2 separate regions of the Homo sapiens genome follow, and region 2 is linked to region 1. Evidence: fine-mapped expression QTL. Tissue or cell type: whole blood. Region 1 holds a variant in brackets; the other region holds the start of a gene. All regions are shown on one strand. Distances are between the middles of the regions.

Region 1 (8,099 bases):
GAAAAAGTAAGGAGAAGGGGAGGATGGATGCTTGTGTGAACACCTGCGGCAGACCCAGTGCCTGCCATGGTGTCATTTCTCTCACCCAGTCCTCCCACAGCCTGGTGAGGAGACCCAGGAATCAGGCTGTCCATTTTACAGATTAGTACATCAATGCCTGGGGAAACCTCTCCAAGGTCAAGGCTGGGAAGTGGCAGAGCTAAGATGATAAAAGCAGGGCTCCATATCTGGCTCACCCCTGTCTCTGAGAGCACGAGGTGACCTTGGGAGTCATGTGAGACTCATGCTCATGGGAGGCTGGCAGGAGACAGGTGATGAGGACAGCTCATGGGGAGCCTGCTGGCAGTGAGAATAGGCTGGAGAAATTCCTGGGACCCAGAGGTTTCCCAGGCTAGAAAAGGAGGAGTTGGACCCAGGGACTAGGCCTGCTGGTCTGCACCCATGAGCTGGAACCATACTCCCCACCAAAGCCCTCCTATCCCCACTCCTGCCCGGACCCTCCTTCTACTCCTTTTGTCCTGCTTTCTTGAGGCTGTTTCCCAAGCCTAGCCTGGCACTGAATAGGTGCTCCAGAAACTTTGTTGAATGAATGAATGAGTGAGATGTCCCTAGCCCCTGGAACACCTGTTTGGTCTAATGCCTTTAAAGATCAGTTTGCAAGGGGATGGCAGCAAAGGAGCAGGAGTTCCAAGTGGCCCCCTGGTAAAATAAATAAATAAATAAATAAATAAATAAATAAAAACAGCCAGCTGTCACTCCAAAAATGGTGAGATGAGTTCAGGATGAGGGAATGGGGCCACAGGAACAAAGCGCTTGAAGGAGGTCCCACACCATTTACACCCTGCAGAGAATCCCTGGGTGGGGCCTGGAAACTTTGGATGGCTGTGTGAGGTGGGCGCTGTGTGCACAGGGGCAGTGGGGCAAGGGAGACATGGCAGGAGGCGCTGAGAGGTGACCAAGGTGAAGCAAGACTGGCTGCACCCTGCCAAAGAGCGGTAGGAGAGACAGAAGTTAGCGTTTAGGAAGTAAATTAATTTCTTCATCTCTGCAGCTACTTAAGCTCCGAGAATCCCCCCTCCCCGCCTGTAAGTGTCTTTGGGGTGGTGGAAGCGGAGACCTCTGCCACACTGGGGGCTGCCTGATGTCCGGTCCGGGAAGGATGCCCTGCTGTGTTTGCTCGGGACAGGTAAGAGTTTGTGGACCTCGATGGTCTCCAAAAAATTCTCCCCTAGTGGTCCAGAGTAGGAGGGAAAGGGTTAATGACAGGGCCGACACAGAGCATGGACGTGGGAAGACCGAGGGAGGCCGAGGCGCTGGGAGCCCAGGCGCCAGGCACGCCAGCCTGAGACCTCGCGATGGCCCCACTGCAGAGGGAGGGAATGAGGAGCCGCCTCCCGAGAGATGTGGGGAACGGCCCAGGGTGACCCTGACATGGAGGCGGCGGGAATGCGGCCGCCCGGCCCGGCCCCCCCACCGCTTGGCTCCGGACTTCTGCTCCCCCGGAGCCGCGACCCCCGTCCCGCTGCTGATACAGAGCCTGGGCATCCGCCCCTGCCCCGGCCCCCGGGGTCCCGGCTCCTTCCAGCACTGCCAGGCTCCTCCAGGGCTGCGCTGGCAGCGCTGGTCCCCGGCCCCGGCCGATCCCTCTTCCCAGAATCCCCAGGCTCCCCTCCCCCGCCACCGACCCCCGCGCTTCCCAGAATCCTCGGCCCTCCGCGCCCCCCGCCCGCCCCCACCCCGGCCACAGCCCCGGGCGCGGGTGGGGGGCTCAGGCCCGGGCTCCCGGCCCCCGCCTCCCGGGCCCCATTGTTCCCCGGCGGCCGTCCCGGGCACTCCAGGCCACCCCCCGGGAACCCAGGCGTCCCCAACTCACGGCTCTGGGGTCTGGGAAAAGCCGGAAGGCGGAATCCAGCCCCAGGGGACTTAACCCCTTCAGTGCCCTGCCTCGGGGGACGGACTGGGCGCCGAGGACTCTGGGGTCCTTCTCAAGGGGTGATTCCAGGCTGAGGACCCGGGGACCAGTTCAGGGTGACTGGGACGGAGCAGGAAGTGACCCCAGCTTCCCGGGCCCCTCTAGCCTGGAGTCAGAGCATCAGCTCTATGGGATTTAACCCTTTGCCTCCCGCAGCCTGGGGAAAAAAGGGGACAGCGGTGGGAGCAGGGAGGAGGCTGGGACGACGCCCCTGTCCCCGTCTCCAGTGGGAGCAGGCAGCGTGGGCATCTGGGAGAGCCCCGATGCCCGCGAGGGTCCCTGGGCTTCTGGCCGCTCTTCATTTCGCAGGGGCTCCGCCGGCCGCGCCCGGAAAGCCCTATCTCAGATTTGGCGGCTGCTGATCCCCTGAGGCCAGTCTTTGTTTGGACTAACCCTGGGATGGGGCTGGGGTGGGAGCAGGGGCTGGCAGAGCAGACCTGAGAGGGAACACCCTACGCACTAAACATGGCCTTAATGCTTGATGGAAGTCATGGCTGCAGGAGTTGGGACTGCAGGAACAAGCACAGCCGGGAAGGATTTGCAATAGCCTGTGTTCCAGCCCCTCTTCTCCAAACACCTCCCCTCAGAGGAGGAAACTGAGGCTCACGGTGGCAGGAAAGAAGCCAGTGGGGGTTCCCTGGCCAAGGAGGGAGAACCTCTTTTCTCATAGCTCAGAGGGCACCCGGCTCACAGCAGAAGAAACCTTTAAAAACCCAGGAACACTGGTGGCCTCTCAACGTCCAAGTTATCTATGCTCGCAATTTTTACAGCCTTTCTTTCTTGTCTTCCTTATCACAGTCCCATGGGATAAGGTTGCCCATCATCCCCATTTCACCGGGGAGGAAACCAAGGTGTGAGAAGCGACTGGTGTACTTAAGGCCACCTGATTCTTTCAGTTCAACACACTGCATTATTATTCCTGGGCACTGTGGTTAACACTGGGGTGGGCATACCTCTGAGATGCATGGAAATTGGGCTTTCTACCCTTGGGAAGTTTGGTATTGTGTATGTGTTACAAACACAGAGGAATCCTGGGAGCGTGCAGAGGGCTCTGTCCAGAGACTGAGAGGCTGGGGGGAAGAATAAACCAAAGGTCAGAAATTACTAAAGGCAGCTGGGTGCGGTGGCTCACGCCTGTAATCCCAACCCTTTGGGAGACCAAGGCAGGCGGATCACTTGAGGTCAGGAGTTTGAGACCAGCCTGGACAACATGGTGAAACCATGTCTCTACTAAAAATACAAAAATTAGCCAGGCGCAGTGGCTCATGCCTATAATCCCAGCACTTTGTGAGGCCGAGGCAGGCAGATCGCTTGAGCCCGGGAGGCAGAGGTTGCAATAAGCCAAGATTGAGCCACTGCACTGCAGCCTGGACGACAGAGTGAGATCCTGTCGCAAAAAAAAAAAAAAAAAGAAGGAGGGAGGGAGGGAGAGAAAGAGAGAAAAGGAAGGAAGGAAGGAAGGAAAAGAGAAAACAGGAAAGAGAAAAAATTGCTAAAGGCCAGGCCTGGTGGCTCATGCCTGTAATCCCAGCACTTTGGGAGGCTGAGGCAGAAGGGTAACTTGAGCCCAGGAGTTTGAAGGCTGGGCAACATAGTGAAACCCTGTCTCTACAAAAAACTTAAAAACAATTAGCTGGGCAGGGCGCGGTGGCTCATGCCTGTAATCCCAGCACTTTGGGAGGCCAAGGTGGGTGGATCACCTGAGGTCAGGAGTTCAAGACCAGCCTGACCAACATGGAGAAGCCCCATCTCTACTAAAATACAAAAATTAGCCCAGCGTGGTGGTGCATACCTGTAATCCCAGCTGCTTGGGACGCTGAGGCAGGAGAAGCGCTTGAACCTAGGAGGCGGAGATTGCAGTGAGCTGAGATCGTGCCATTGCACTCCAGCCTGGGCAACAAGACCAAAACTCGGTCTCAAAAAAAAAGAAAGACAACAACAACAACAAAAACAAACAATTACCCTGGCGTGGTGGTGCATCGCTATGGTCACAGCTACTTGGGCTGAGGCAGGAGAATCACTTAATTCTGGGAGGTGGAGGCTGTAGTGAGCCATGATTGCACCACTGCACTCCAGCCTGGGTGGCAGAGTGAGACCCTGTCTCAAAAAAAAAAAAAAAAGTCCGGGCAGGGCACGGTGGCTTATGCCTGTAATCCCAGCACTTTGGGAGGCCAGGGCGGGCAGATCATGAGGTCAGGAGATTGAGATCATCCTGGCTAACATGGTGAAACCCTGTCTCTACTAAAAATACAAAAAATTAGCCGGGAGTGGTGGCACATACCTGTAGTCCCAGCCACTTGGGAGGCTAAGGCAGGTGAATCTCTTGAACCTGGGAGGTGGAGGTTGCAGTGAGCCGAGATCATGCCACTGCACTCCAGCCTGGGTGACAGAGCGAGACTCTCATCTCAAAAAAAAAAAAAAAAAAGATGGTTTGGCGAGGTGGCTCACACCTGTAATCCCAGCACTTTGGGAGGCTGAGGTGGGCAGATCACTTGTGGGCAGGAGTTCAAGACCAGCCTGGCCAACATGGTGAAACTCTGTCTCTACTAAAAATACAAAAAATTAGCTGGGCATGGTGGCGTGCACCTGTAATCCCTGTTACTCAGGAGGCTGAGGCAGGAGAATCACTTAAAACCCAGGAGGTGGAGGTTGCAGTGAGTCGAGATGGCGCCACTGCACTCCAGCCTGGGCAACAAGAGCAAGACTCAGTCTCAAAATAATAATAATAATAATTTT[A/T]AAAAAAATTAGGCCGGGCGCAGTGACTCACGCCTGTAATCCCAGAACTTTGGGAGGCCGAGGCAGGCGGATCATGAGGTCAGGAGATCAAGACCATCCTGGCTAACACGGTGAAATCCAGTCTCTACTAAAAATACAAAAAATTAGCCGGGCATGGTGGCAGGCGCCTGTAGTCCCAGCTACTTGGGAGGCTGAGGCAGGAGAATGGCGTGAACCTGGGAGACGGAGCTTGCAGTGAGCCGAGATCGTGCCACTGCACTCCAGCCTGGGCGACAGAGCAAGACTCTGTCTCAAAAAACAAACAACAACAACAACAACAAAAAACACACATTAAAAATTGCCTGGCATGGTGGCTCATGCCTGTAATCCCAGCACTTTGGGAGGCTGAGGCGGGAGGATTACCTGAAGTCAGGAGTTCAAGACCAGCCTGGCCAACATGGTGAAACCCCATCTCTACTAAAAATACAAAAATTAGCTGGGGCTGGCTGGGCGCAGTGGCTCACGCCTGTAATCCCAGCACTTTGGGTTGCTGAGGCAGGCGGATCACGAGGTCAGGAGTTCGAGACCAGTCTGACCAACATGGTGAAACCCCGTCTCTACTAAAAATACAAAAATTAGTTGGGCATAGTGGCGCACACCTGTAATCCCAGCTACTCAGGAGGCTGAGGCAGGAGAATTGCTTGAACCCGGGAGGTGGAGGTTGCAGTGAGCAGAGATCGCACTACTGCACTCCAGCCTGGGTGACAGAGTGAGACTGGACATAGTGGCATGCACCTGTAGTCCTAGCTACTCTGGAGGCTGAGGCATGAGAATTGCTTGAACCCAGTTGGTAGAGGTTGCAGTCAGCTGAGATCATGCCACTGCACTCCACCCTGGGTGACATAGTAAGACTCTATCTCAAAAAGAAAAAAAAATTAAAAATTGAATTTCTTGCTTCTTTATTGATTGATTGATTGATTGAGACAGAGTCTCGCACTGTCACCCAGGCTAGAGTGCAGTGGTGCAATCTTGGCTCACTGCAAGCTCTGCCTCCCGGGTTCACACCATTCTCCTGCCTCAGTCTTCTGAGTACCTGGGACTGCAGGCGCCTACCACCACAACCAGCTAATTTTTTTGTATTTTTAGTAGAGACAGGGTTTCACTGTGTTAGCCAGGATGGTCTCAATCTCCTGACGCTGTGATCTGCCCACCTCAGCCTCCCAAAGTGCTGGGATTACAGGCCTGAGCCACCGCGCCTGGCCTGAATTTCCTGCTTCTTTGGAAAATCCAAAGATGTGGCAACGTGATCCACATTTTCACATGTCAGTAACTGGCTGTTGCTGGGCAGCTTGCGTCTTTACAGGGCACTGACCTGCCAGCTGGTCACCATCCCTGTCATTCCTCTGTGTCCCCAACCCTGAGGCCAAGGTGGCTTCATTATATGAATGGTCCTTCACTGCTGATGTTCCAACTCCCGTTTAACTGTAGGTATAGATTCTGGACCCCTTAGTCTGTGTCTCCAAGGTTCAGAGTAATTTTTTATTTTTAGAGACAGTGTCTTGCTGTCACCCAGGCTGGAGTGCAGTGGCACGATCATAGCTCACAGCAGCCTTGAATTTCTACGCTCAAGCAATCCTCCCACCTTAGCCTCTCAAGTAGCTGAAGCTACAGGTGCGTGCCACCATGCCTGGCTAACTTAATTTAAAATTTTTTTGTTCCTCACAAAACTTCTTCCTGAATAATTTTTTAAATATTTTTATAGAAATAGGATCTCACTATATTGCCCAGGCTGGTCTCAAACTCCTGGATTCAAGCAGTCCTCCCATCTTCACCCCGCAAAGTGCTGAGATGATGGGCATAAGCCACCACGCCCAGCTCCAGAGTAACACATGAGGATGGTGCCTGCTGACATAGTTACATTTATTGAGCACTTATGCACTAGGCACTGTGTTTGCATGTAATGACTCCTTAAACCTCCACAACTCATGGCACCATTATTATTATCATCCTGGGACAGAAAGGGTAAGTCACTTGCACACAGGTCACCAGTGGCAGGAGTGGATTTAAATCCACGCACGGTGACTTCAGAGCCACCGTGGATCCTAAACACGTCTCTCCTGCTCAGATGGGCCCAAGCGTGTCTGGGACCCAAGGGTGAGCCTCTCAGTCCCTCCGTCTTCTCCCTCAGAGTTGGAGAGAGGAGCTGGGAAGGGCAGGGCACCCCCATTTGGGCCAATACATCCTCCAGGAAGAGTCTGGGTGTCCTGCTCCTAGGGATATAAAGGCTGCCATGTCCTCTTGCCCTCAATCAGCTGGCATCGCAGCCATGGCAGCAACCTGCCTGGCAGGGGAGCTCTTGCAGGGATGTAGAGGATCCCACCCCCACACCTGTCATGAACAACTCACCCAATGCTCTTCTCTTTGTTTGTTTGTTTGAGACGAGTGTTGCTGTGTTGCCCAGGCTGGAGTGCAGTGGCACGGTCTCGGCTCACTGCAACCTCCACCTCCTGAGTTCAAGGGATTCTTCTGCCTCCCGAGTAGCTGGGACTACAGACACATACCACCACGCCCAGCTAATTTTTGTATTTTTAGTAGAGACGGGGTTTCACCATATTGGCCAGGCTGGTCTCGAACTCCTGACCTCATGATCTGCCTGCCTCGGCCTCCCAAAGTGCTTGGATTACAGGCGTGAACCACCATGCCCGGCCCAATGCTCTTCTTAGTTATGGGCCTTATGCCCCGAGGGGCTGCAATAACAGTGAGTTCCTGGCCAGGTGCGGTGGCTCACACCTGTAATCCCATCTCTACTAAAAATACAAAAATTAGCTGGGCATGATGGTGGGCGCCTGTAATCCCAGCTACTTGGGAGGCTGAGGCAGGAGAATCACTTGAACCCAGGAGGCAGATGTTGCAGTGAGCCAAGATCGTGCCACTGCATTCCAGCCTGAGTGACAGAGCAAAACTGCATTTCAAAACAAAAAACAAACAAAAAAGTGAGGTCCTGGAGGTAGACCCGGGTCCAAACCTGCAGCAGCACTCCTTTCGAGGGGGCACCAGCTGCGGGGAGTCTGTCCCTTGCAGACCCCTGACCTGGCGATGGATGAATAAAGTATAACGGCACACAGATACTCTGCTCTGCCACTCCAGCTGAGGGTCCAAGCCGCTTACAGGCTCCGTGCTGAGTCCTGTAAACAGTTGCGACTGCGACCCTGATCAGCTAGTCAGACTCATATTTATTCAGTAAGATTAATTAACAAAAGCTTGAGTCAACACCATTAGAAGGTAATTGACATTGCGGACTTCCCGATTAAAAAGCACTTAAGCATCTGGTACATCAAAAGTTAGTTTTAAGATCGAATGAGTAAAGAAGCTAGCTAGGTAAACTACTCTGCCTTTATTACTACTTTAATTT
Region 2 (8,086 bases), 160 kb after region 1:
AGCCAGAAGTGACTTCTCTTTCCTCTGCTTTCCTCTATGGGCCTTTCCTCCTTGTGCCTTTAGCTGTGGCCCAAGGTTGAGGGCATCTGTAAAGGTATCCCCTCTCCAGGCGCTTGGCTCCTCAAAGACAGGAGGAGGGGTTAAAATTTAGGGCTTGCAAAGTCAAGTGCCCATAGAGTTGGCCTGGGAGGTAACAGAAGTGATGCATTGGTGTAGGACATTAGGGAGTGGCACCTAGCCACCCAGCTCCCCTCAGTCATCATCTGGTGGGAAGGAGTGCCTAGTGAGGCCACATCTTACGATTCTTCAAGGAAAAGCTCAGTATGTAAATTTATTTATAAAAATGTCCTTTTTGTAGTGTTAGTCATTAAGGAAGTTTTTAGCATTCTGTAGACTCCATAAAACATGTTTGGAGGGCAGCCTCATGGTTTGTGCCATCTGATCTATTAATAGTTTATCTTAGGGATAGGCTGGTGCCTGGGAGGCAGACAACACTGTGGTAAGAGTTCAGATTCAGCATCACCAGGCCTGGGTTTCCTGGCTGTAAACAGGAATGATGATCAGAGATCTTGTCTCCCAAGGCTGTGGTTCTTAAAGTGTGGTCGGGGGACCAGCAGCATCCACAAAACTGGAGAACTTGTTAAAAAAGTAAACTCTGGGCCGGGCATGGTGGCTCACACCTGTAATCCTAGCACTTTGGGAGGCCGAGGTGGGCAGATCACTTGAGGTCAGGAGTTTGAGACCAGCCTGGCCAACATGGTGAAACCCCATCTCTACTAAAAAAATACAAAAAATTAGCCAGGCGTGGTGGCAAATGCTTTTAATCCCAACTACTTGGGAGGCTGTGGCAAGGAGATTGCTTGAACCTGGGAGGTGGAAGTTGCAGTGAGCCGAGATTGCACCACTGTACTCCATCCTGGGTTACAGAGTGAGACTCCATCTCAAAAAAAAAAAAAAAAAAGTAAACTCTGGTCAGGTGCGGTGGCTCAGGCCTGTAATCCCAGCACTTTGGGAGGCCAAAGTGGGAGGATCAAGGCTACAGTGAGCTACAGGGAGGTTGAGGCTGCAGTAAGCTGTGATTGTACCACTGCACTCCAGCCTGGGTGACAGAGCAAGACTCCGTCTCGGGGAAAAAAAAAAAAAAAAAAAAAAAAGGAAAACGTATGTATGTCAGAAAAATGCATATAATATGTCAAATGGTGAGAAAAAGAGGAAAAAATGATGCAAGGAAGTGGTAGGAGTGTGGAGAATTACATTAGTTTTTGCATTGCTATAAAGAAATACCTTCGGCTGGGTAATTTATAAAGAAAAGAGGTTGAATTGGCTCAGGATTCTGCAAGCTGTACAGGAAGTATCGTGCCTGCGTCTGCTCAGCTTCTGGGGAAGCCTCACGTAGCTTTTACTCTTGATGGAACGTGAAGGAATCGGCATGTCACATGGCAAGACAGCAAGAGAGAGGAGGGGAGGTCACAGACTCTTTTATTTATTTATTTATTTATTTTGAGATGGAGTCTCGCTCTGTTGCCCAGGCTGGGGTGCAGTGGCACAATCGTGGCTCACTGCAACCTCCACCTCTCGGGTTCAAGTGATTCTCCTGCCTCAGCCTCCTGAGTAGCCGGGATTACAGGCGCCTGCCACCATACCCGGCTAATTTTTGTATGTTGAGTAGAGACAAGGTTTTGCCATGTTAGGCCAGGCTAGTCTCGAACTCCTGACCTCAAGTGAGCCGCCTGCCTCGGCTTCCCAAAGTGCTAGGATTACAGGCATGAGCCACCACGCCTGGCAGAATATTGTAGTCTCAAATACAATAATCATGGAAGGCCTCCGAGGAGGTGATGTGAGGAGTGGACAGATGAGGTCAGGCCATGAGGGTGTTTTTGAGAAGAGCAAGCCACAGAGTGCACCAGGTCACTCACTTATGTGGGAAGCAGGTGGAGGGCAGATGGTCTGGATACCTGGGCGCAGGGATGGGAGTGGCCAGGAGTGCTGACCTCTCATCTGGCTGCCCAGGGCAAACAGAGAGCCGTGGTCGGCTGCAGGGGGTGGCAGAACTGCGTCTGGCAGGTTTGGAGCTGACAGATGCCTCCCTGCGTCTCCTGCTGCGTCACGCACCCCAGCTGAGCGCCCTGGACCTGAGCCACTGCGCCCACGTCGGGGACCCCAGTGTTCACCTCCTCACGGCCCCCACGTCCCCACTCCGCGAGACCCTGGTGCACCTCAATCTTGCTGGTAAGCACGGTCCCCCATCCGTCCTGCCAGCCTGTGGATCCCCACGGCCAGTGCCAACCCCTTGCTCACCTGCCTGGTCTCAGCTCCACTGCCCCATCCCCAGGTTGCCACCGCCTAACGGACCACTGCCTCCCGCTGTTCCGCCGCTGCCCTCGTCTACGCCGCCTAGACCTGCGCTCCTGCCGCCAGCTCTCACCCGAAGCTTGTGCCCGGCTGGCAGCTGCCGGGCCCCCTGGCCCCTTCCGCTGCCCTGAGGAGAAGCTGCTTCTCAAGGACAGCTAGTTGGGCGCCCCCCACCCTCCCCCGGACTCGACAGGAGCCTGGACCTCCGGCTTCATTTCACCCCTGCTGGGAGGCCAGGTTCCCACCTCACCACCCTGGGATTCCTGAGTGTCAGTGACTTGGGATTCCCACCCAGGGACTCAAGCCAGCCACCCCCTTCTTTCCCCCCTGCACTGATATCTCTGGGGGTTTCTCCTTCCTATGTCCTGCCCCTGCTACCTGCTTCATTGTCCATCCCCTGGGGGAGTGGGTCAGAGGTACTGGAGGGTGCTGAGCCGAAGGGACGGTGGGAGGGGGGTTATGGTGCAAGTGTTGGGGGGGAGAATGGGGAAAGGACACACACAGGATATGGGAGCCAGGGGCTGGGGGAGGTGGAAGGGGCGGGGGGCGGGGCAGACAGCAGACCACCAAGGGTTCAGGGAACAAAGACCAGTTACTTGGAGTGGGGGGTGGGGGTGGGGCCACAAAAGGAAAACCGGAGGAGCAATTGGGGATCCAGGTGTCAGAGGTAGGGGAACCAGGGGCAAGCTGGGGCTGAGCTGGAGGTGGGGATGAGAGCAGGTGTGGGGACAGCAATACCCCCTTGGGGGTCACCTCTCTGCTTCCCCCCTCCCCAGGCTTCAGTTCCTTCCCCCTGACCCTGACTCCTTGAACGTCACTGAAAACGGCAGCTATTGCAAGGAGTGGGGGCCGCGGGCAGCCGCTCTTCAGCTCGCGGCCCAGGGGAGTGGCGAGGGGCGCCCCAACCCCCTGCCCGCCTCTCCGCACAATACTTGAACATTCATCTGTACTGAAGTGTTACTTGAACCGGGGGAATCTCGGACCTGGGGGAGCCGGGGTGTGAGGGGACTGGACCAGCTTGGACTGAGACCTGAGACCGGGCCGGTGGGCGCCCATTTGGGACTGCGCCACCCCCAGGCTTGTTCTTGTTTTACTGTATTGAGCGGCGGCACCCGCCGGACCCGCATTATGGCTGGGGGCGCCAGCCCAAGAATGGGGACCATGGGACTCCTCCAGCCTGGCTCTTCCCACTCTTTCATCGTCATGGAAACTTGTATCCCATTTGCCCAGGGAACTGCCACTCCTGGTTGCCATGGAAATAGCAGCCAACGGACACCTCCCGATGCCAGTGCTAAGGCTGGAAATGGCCCCCTCTTAGTTGCCATGGGAACCTAGTAACAGACTCTGCTGGCCCTCCTTCCCTGCCCCTTCCTCGAGCGCGGGGTGGGGCTTCGGGACCCCGGGGATGAGCCGGGCCAGGTCCCGCCCCTCCGCGCAGGCCTCCGGGGGGCCGGGGCTTACCATGTAGGGGAGGGGAGATCTATCCACATACCTCAGGTAACAGGGAGGTGCGCGGGTGGGGGGAGGGCTGGGCGGACCAAAGGCCGGAGGGGTGGGGCCTGGGGATAGCGAGAGGCTTGAGAATGGGGCCGCTTGGGGGAGGGAAGAGGCAGCCCGGCGAGGGGCAAGCGGGGGACCCAGCCGGGCTGGGCCCCTGGGCCCCGGGTCTGTACAATACGGTTTGCTATAAAACTCAAAATCTTCCAGCCGGGGCTGCGGAGTTCGTGTGTGTATCTGCGGGGTCCCTACCTACAGATGAGTGGGCTCACCTCTCCTGGACTCATTTTGGGAGGGATTTGGAAGTGTGGACACCTGGGGTGTCCAGCTGTACCTTGGAGGGGGCTGGGGTTGGCGTGCACCTCGGTGGGGTCCGGGCGCTTGGATAACGTTCTTGGTGGGTAGGGGTCGCGGGGAATCTCTGCGGGCCCGGGACTGCGGGGACTTGGTCCCCGGCTCCACCCCATCATGTGGCTAGCCCCGGCTCCGCCTCTGTCCCAGTTCCTGTTTTGGCCTCCGCTGTCCCGCTCCGGCTCCTGGGGCTCCCCGCAGACGCTGCTTTTCTTGCTCCACTGGGGGTGCCTCTTCCTGGGCGCCCGCCGCCTGCATCCTGCTCGTCCTGTCTGGGAATGGGGCCGCCCCCGGGCTTGGGCCGGCCCGGCTGGGGCCCCCGAGGCGCTTCCGCCCCGTAGTGACCGCCTGGTGCCGCCCCCCCCCCAGGATGAAGGGCGGCGAGGGGGACGCGGGCGAGCAGGCCCCGCTGAACCCTGAGGGCGAGAGCCCTGCAGGCTCGGCCACGTACCGGGAGTTCGTGCACCGCGGCTACCTGGACCTCATGGGGGCCAGTCAGCACTCGCTGCGGGCGCTCAGCTGGCGCCGCCTCTACCTCAGCCGGGCCAAGCTCAAAGCTTCCAGCCGCACGTCTGCCTTGCTCTCGGGCTTCGCCATGGTGAGGGGCCGGGAGGGGTCACACCCGGTGGGGCAGAGCAAGTGGGGGGCACAGGTCGGGGGGGGGGCGAAGTAAACAGGTCCCAAGGGAGACAGGTTAAAGGGGGCTTTCGTCAAAGGGGGAAGGAACAAGGTCCCGCGGGACTGAGCAAGTCCCTTCTTACGGATGTGTGTGTACAGGGGACCCCAGGAGACGGGGCCACCGGAGGACACGAAAGTCCTAAAGGTGTCGTAGTGGGAGTGGGGTGAACAAATCGCTGGTGGGGTTGACTGCAACAGTGAGGCAGAGTGGTCCAGATGGAGCCTGTACCTGGCAGAAGTGGTTCCTAAGTCCCAGTGCCAGCTTCAAAGGCAGGTCAGCTGGGTGGGGGCTGCATCAACAGGTGGGGGGCTCGAGATGGATTAGCTGGGTGGAAGGGTCACCCAGCTGAAGGTGGGCCCGTCCCAGGGAAGGTGGCCACTCTCCAGCGGGCCCAAGGGGTGCTAGTGTCAACCAGGAAAACTGACAAGAGATCATGCCCGGGAGGGAACCGCTGGGGAAGGAGGCTGATGAGGAAACTGATAAGCGAGTCTCAAGCTGATAAACCCCAGGTGCAGGAGGACGGTGTTGGCTAACGGTCTGCCCCAGCAGTGGCCTCACAGGAAGTGGGATGGAGGGAGGTCCCAGGGTGAGGATCAGCAGACACAGTCCTGGCTCCTCCCTGCTTGTGGCCAGCTGTGTGACCCTGGACAGGCCTCCACCCCGCTTGCAAGCCAGTGGGAAACTGAGATCATGGAGGGTGCGCCCTCTGTAGCCAGCCAAGTAACCGCCCCAGGGTGAGCCAGGCATGTCAGAGCAGGTCACGTACCAAGGATGGCTCAGACTAGCCTGCTAATTGGACAGGTGTGGAAAGTAAAAGCCTTGCCTCTGGGCAGGAGCGAATGAACTGGGACCCAGGGTTGCTGCTCTGTTAGTCTGGGGTTGCCCCACCATCACCCCAGGAAAAAGGAGAAAGTGAGCTGCAGGAGGTACTTTGGGGAACGCACTCCTGTGGGGGTGGATATCAGAGGCGGTTGGGGTGGGGACCATGGCGCTAGGGGATCTGGGCTAGTCCCTGCCCTGTCTGTGCCACAACCTCCATATTTGAACAATGACAGGGAAACTCTCTAACCCTAAGGGTCATCATAAGCCTATGGTCTTCTATGTGGGGTCCCAGAATCCACAGACCAGCTTACCTTTCATGATGGGGGCATCACCTAGGGACAGGATGTTGGCTCCCCTTCATCTGCACAGCCTGCAGAGGGAAGGGAGCAGCCACCCAAGCTGAGGGAGGTCAACCCCATGGTCCAGCCTGTTCCCAAGGAGACAATCCCTCCACGGCAGAATATGCAGGTGCAGGTTGCTGGGGTGACAGCTTAAGGGCCCGAGCCTTCTCTGCAGGAGGAAGGGGCTGGAGGTTTAGGTTCCGGGGGCAGGACTGGCCGCAGTCCTAGCAGGGGTGACCGAGGCTGGGCCAGGCTCTGGGAGAAACCAGGACTAAGCCTGGCCCAGATCCCTGTCTGTGGAAAACACCTCCTGACACCTGCCATGGCCCAATTTCCCAAAATACTCAGCCCTGTTTTCCTACCTCCACCCGCCAGCCTCTACACCTACCTTCTTCTTTCCCCAGGCCCAGAGCAATCGAATGGACCCTACAAGAACCAGGGATGGGGAGAGAGTGGGCTTCTGAAACTCAGGTGGCCTAAGTTAGAATAGCATTATACAAATTGTATCCAGCTGTCACTAAGCACCAGGCACTGCCCTCAGTGCCTTTATATACATCATCTGTTAGCCTACAAAGTGGGTACTGCTACTCTGGCCATTTTACAGATGAGGAAACTGAGGATCAGAGATGTTAAGACACCTGCCCAAGGTCCCACAGCAAGTAAGTGGCAGGATTTGAGCCTAAGCCGTCTGGTTCCAGACTCCAAATTTATAAATTCCTAGAATAGGGTCATCAACTCAAATGTTTGCAAAGGGCCAGGCAGGTAATATGGATGCCAAATTGGCTGGGTAGGGACTAGCAAGCAAGAGACCCCATGACATTGGGGGTGATGGCTCACACCTTTCATCCCAGCACTTTGGGAGGCCAAGGCAGGAGGATCGCTTGAGCCTAGGAGCCCAGGAGTTCGAGTCCAGCCAGCCTGGGCAACATAGCAAGACCTGGCATCTACCAAAAAAAAAAAAAGAGAGACCCCATGACCTTTCCAAGGGGAGCAGCCATGACTGATTTGAGCTGATAGTTGCCATGCAGGAACGCAGGCCAAGTGTGGCTAGTTCTTCCAAGTTTTCAAGGGGATCTGGAAATAGGGATATAAGAAATCTCTTCAGTTTTACAAGTTGGCAGCATCTTCCATTTTTTAAGAAACACACTGTGTGAGCCAAGCAAAACACGTCTGCAAGCTGGCAGTGGTCCACAGTGTGCCGATTTGTAAACTCTGTCCTCAGACTTTAGCATTCACTATAGCAAGAACAGCAAACACATACCTAGTGCTTACTCTGTGCCTGGCACTGTTCTTTTTCTTTTTCTTCCTTTTCCTTTTCCTTTCCTTTCCTCTTTCTTTTTCTTTCTTTCTTTTCTTTCTTATCTTTCTTTTTTTTTTTTTTTTGAGACAGAGTCCCACACTGTCACCCAGGCTGGAGTGCAGTGGTGCGATCTCGGCTCACTGCAACCTCTGCCTCCTGGGTTCAAGCAATTCTCCTGCCTTAGCCTCCCAAGCTCCTGAGTAGCCGGGATTACAGGCGCACACCACCACGCCCGGCTAATTTTTATATTTTTAGTAGAGACAGGGTTTCACCATGTTGGCCAGGCTGGTCTTGAACTCCTGACCTCAGGTGATCCGCCCAACTCGGCCTCCCAAAGTGTTGGGATGAAAGGCGTGAGCCACCACTCCCAGCCCATTTCATGTATATTTCATTTAATGTTTATACCAACCCTATAAGGCAGGGAGGTGCTGTTATCAATCTCTATTTCCAGATAGGAAATTGAGGCACACAGAGAACTGACTTGCTCAAGATTACACAGCTAGAGCAGAGAATGATCCCAGGCAGCCCAGCTCCAGAATCTGCTGTTTGATCCCTATGCAGTAAACCTGTTAGAAGCATGTCATCCAGCCCTTTTTTTTATTTTTATTTTTAATTTTTTTTTGAGACAGAGTCTTGCTCTGTTGCCCAGGCTGGAGTGCAGTCACATGATCTCGGCTCACTCAAACTTCTGCCTCCTGGGTTCAAGCAGTTCTCCTGCCTCAGCCTCTCAAGTAGCAGGGATTA

Evidence for each region. PIP is the estimated chance that this variant, and not a neighbour inherited with it, causes the effect.
Region 2: ORAI3 starts here. The variant in region 1 is fine-mapped to the expression of ORAI3 in whole blood (TOPMed, PIP 0.97).

The regions. Positions count from the first base shown.
Region 1 is chr16:30,785,155-30,793,253 of GRCh38, forward strand. It overlaps ZNF629 (zinc finger protein 629), which reads right to left and starts at 2,051. Exons shown (of 3, transcript NM_001080417.3): 1 at 1,874-2,051. RefSeq lists an enhancer at 2,001-2,120. The variant A/T (reference allele first, on the strand shown) is at 4,709.
Region 2 is chr16:30,944,720-30,952,805 of GRCh38, forward strand. ORAI3 (ORAI calcium release-activated calcium modulator 3) reads left to right here and starts at 4,349. Exons shown (of 2, transcript NM_152288.3): 1 at 4,349-4,798. The coding sequence starts at 4,571. It overlaps FBXL19 (F-box and leucine rich repeat protein 19), which reads left to right. Exons shown (of 11, transcript NM_001382779.1): 10 at 2,011-2,229; 11 at 2,333-4,064. The coding sequence ends at 2,511. RefSeq lists silencers at 3,775-4,024, 4,395-4,654, 4,695-4,744 and enhancers at 4,668-5,186, 5,475-5,704, 5,705-6,222.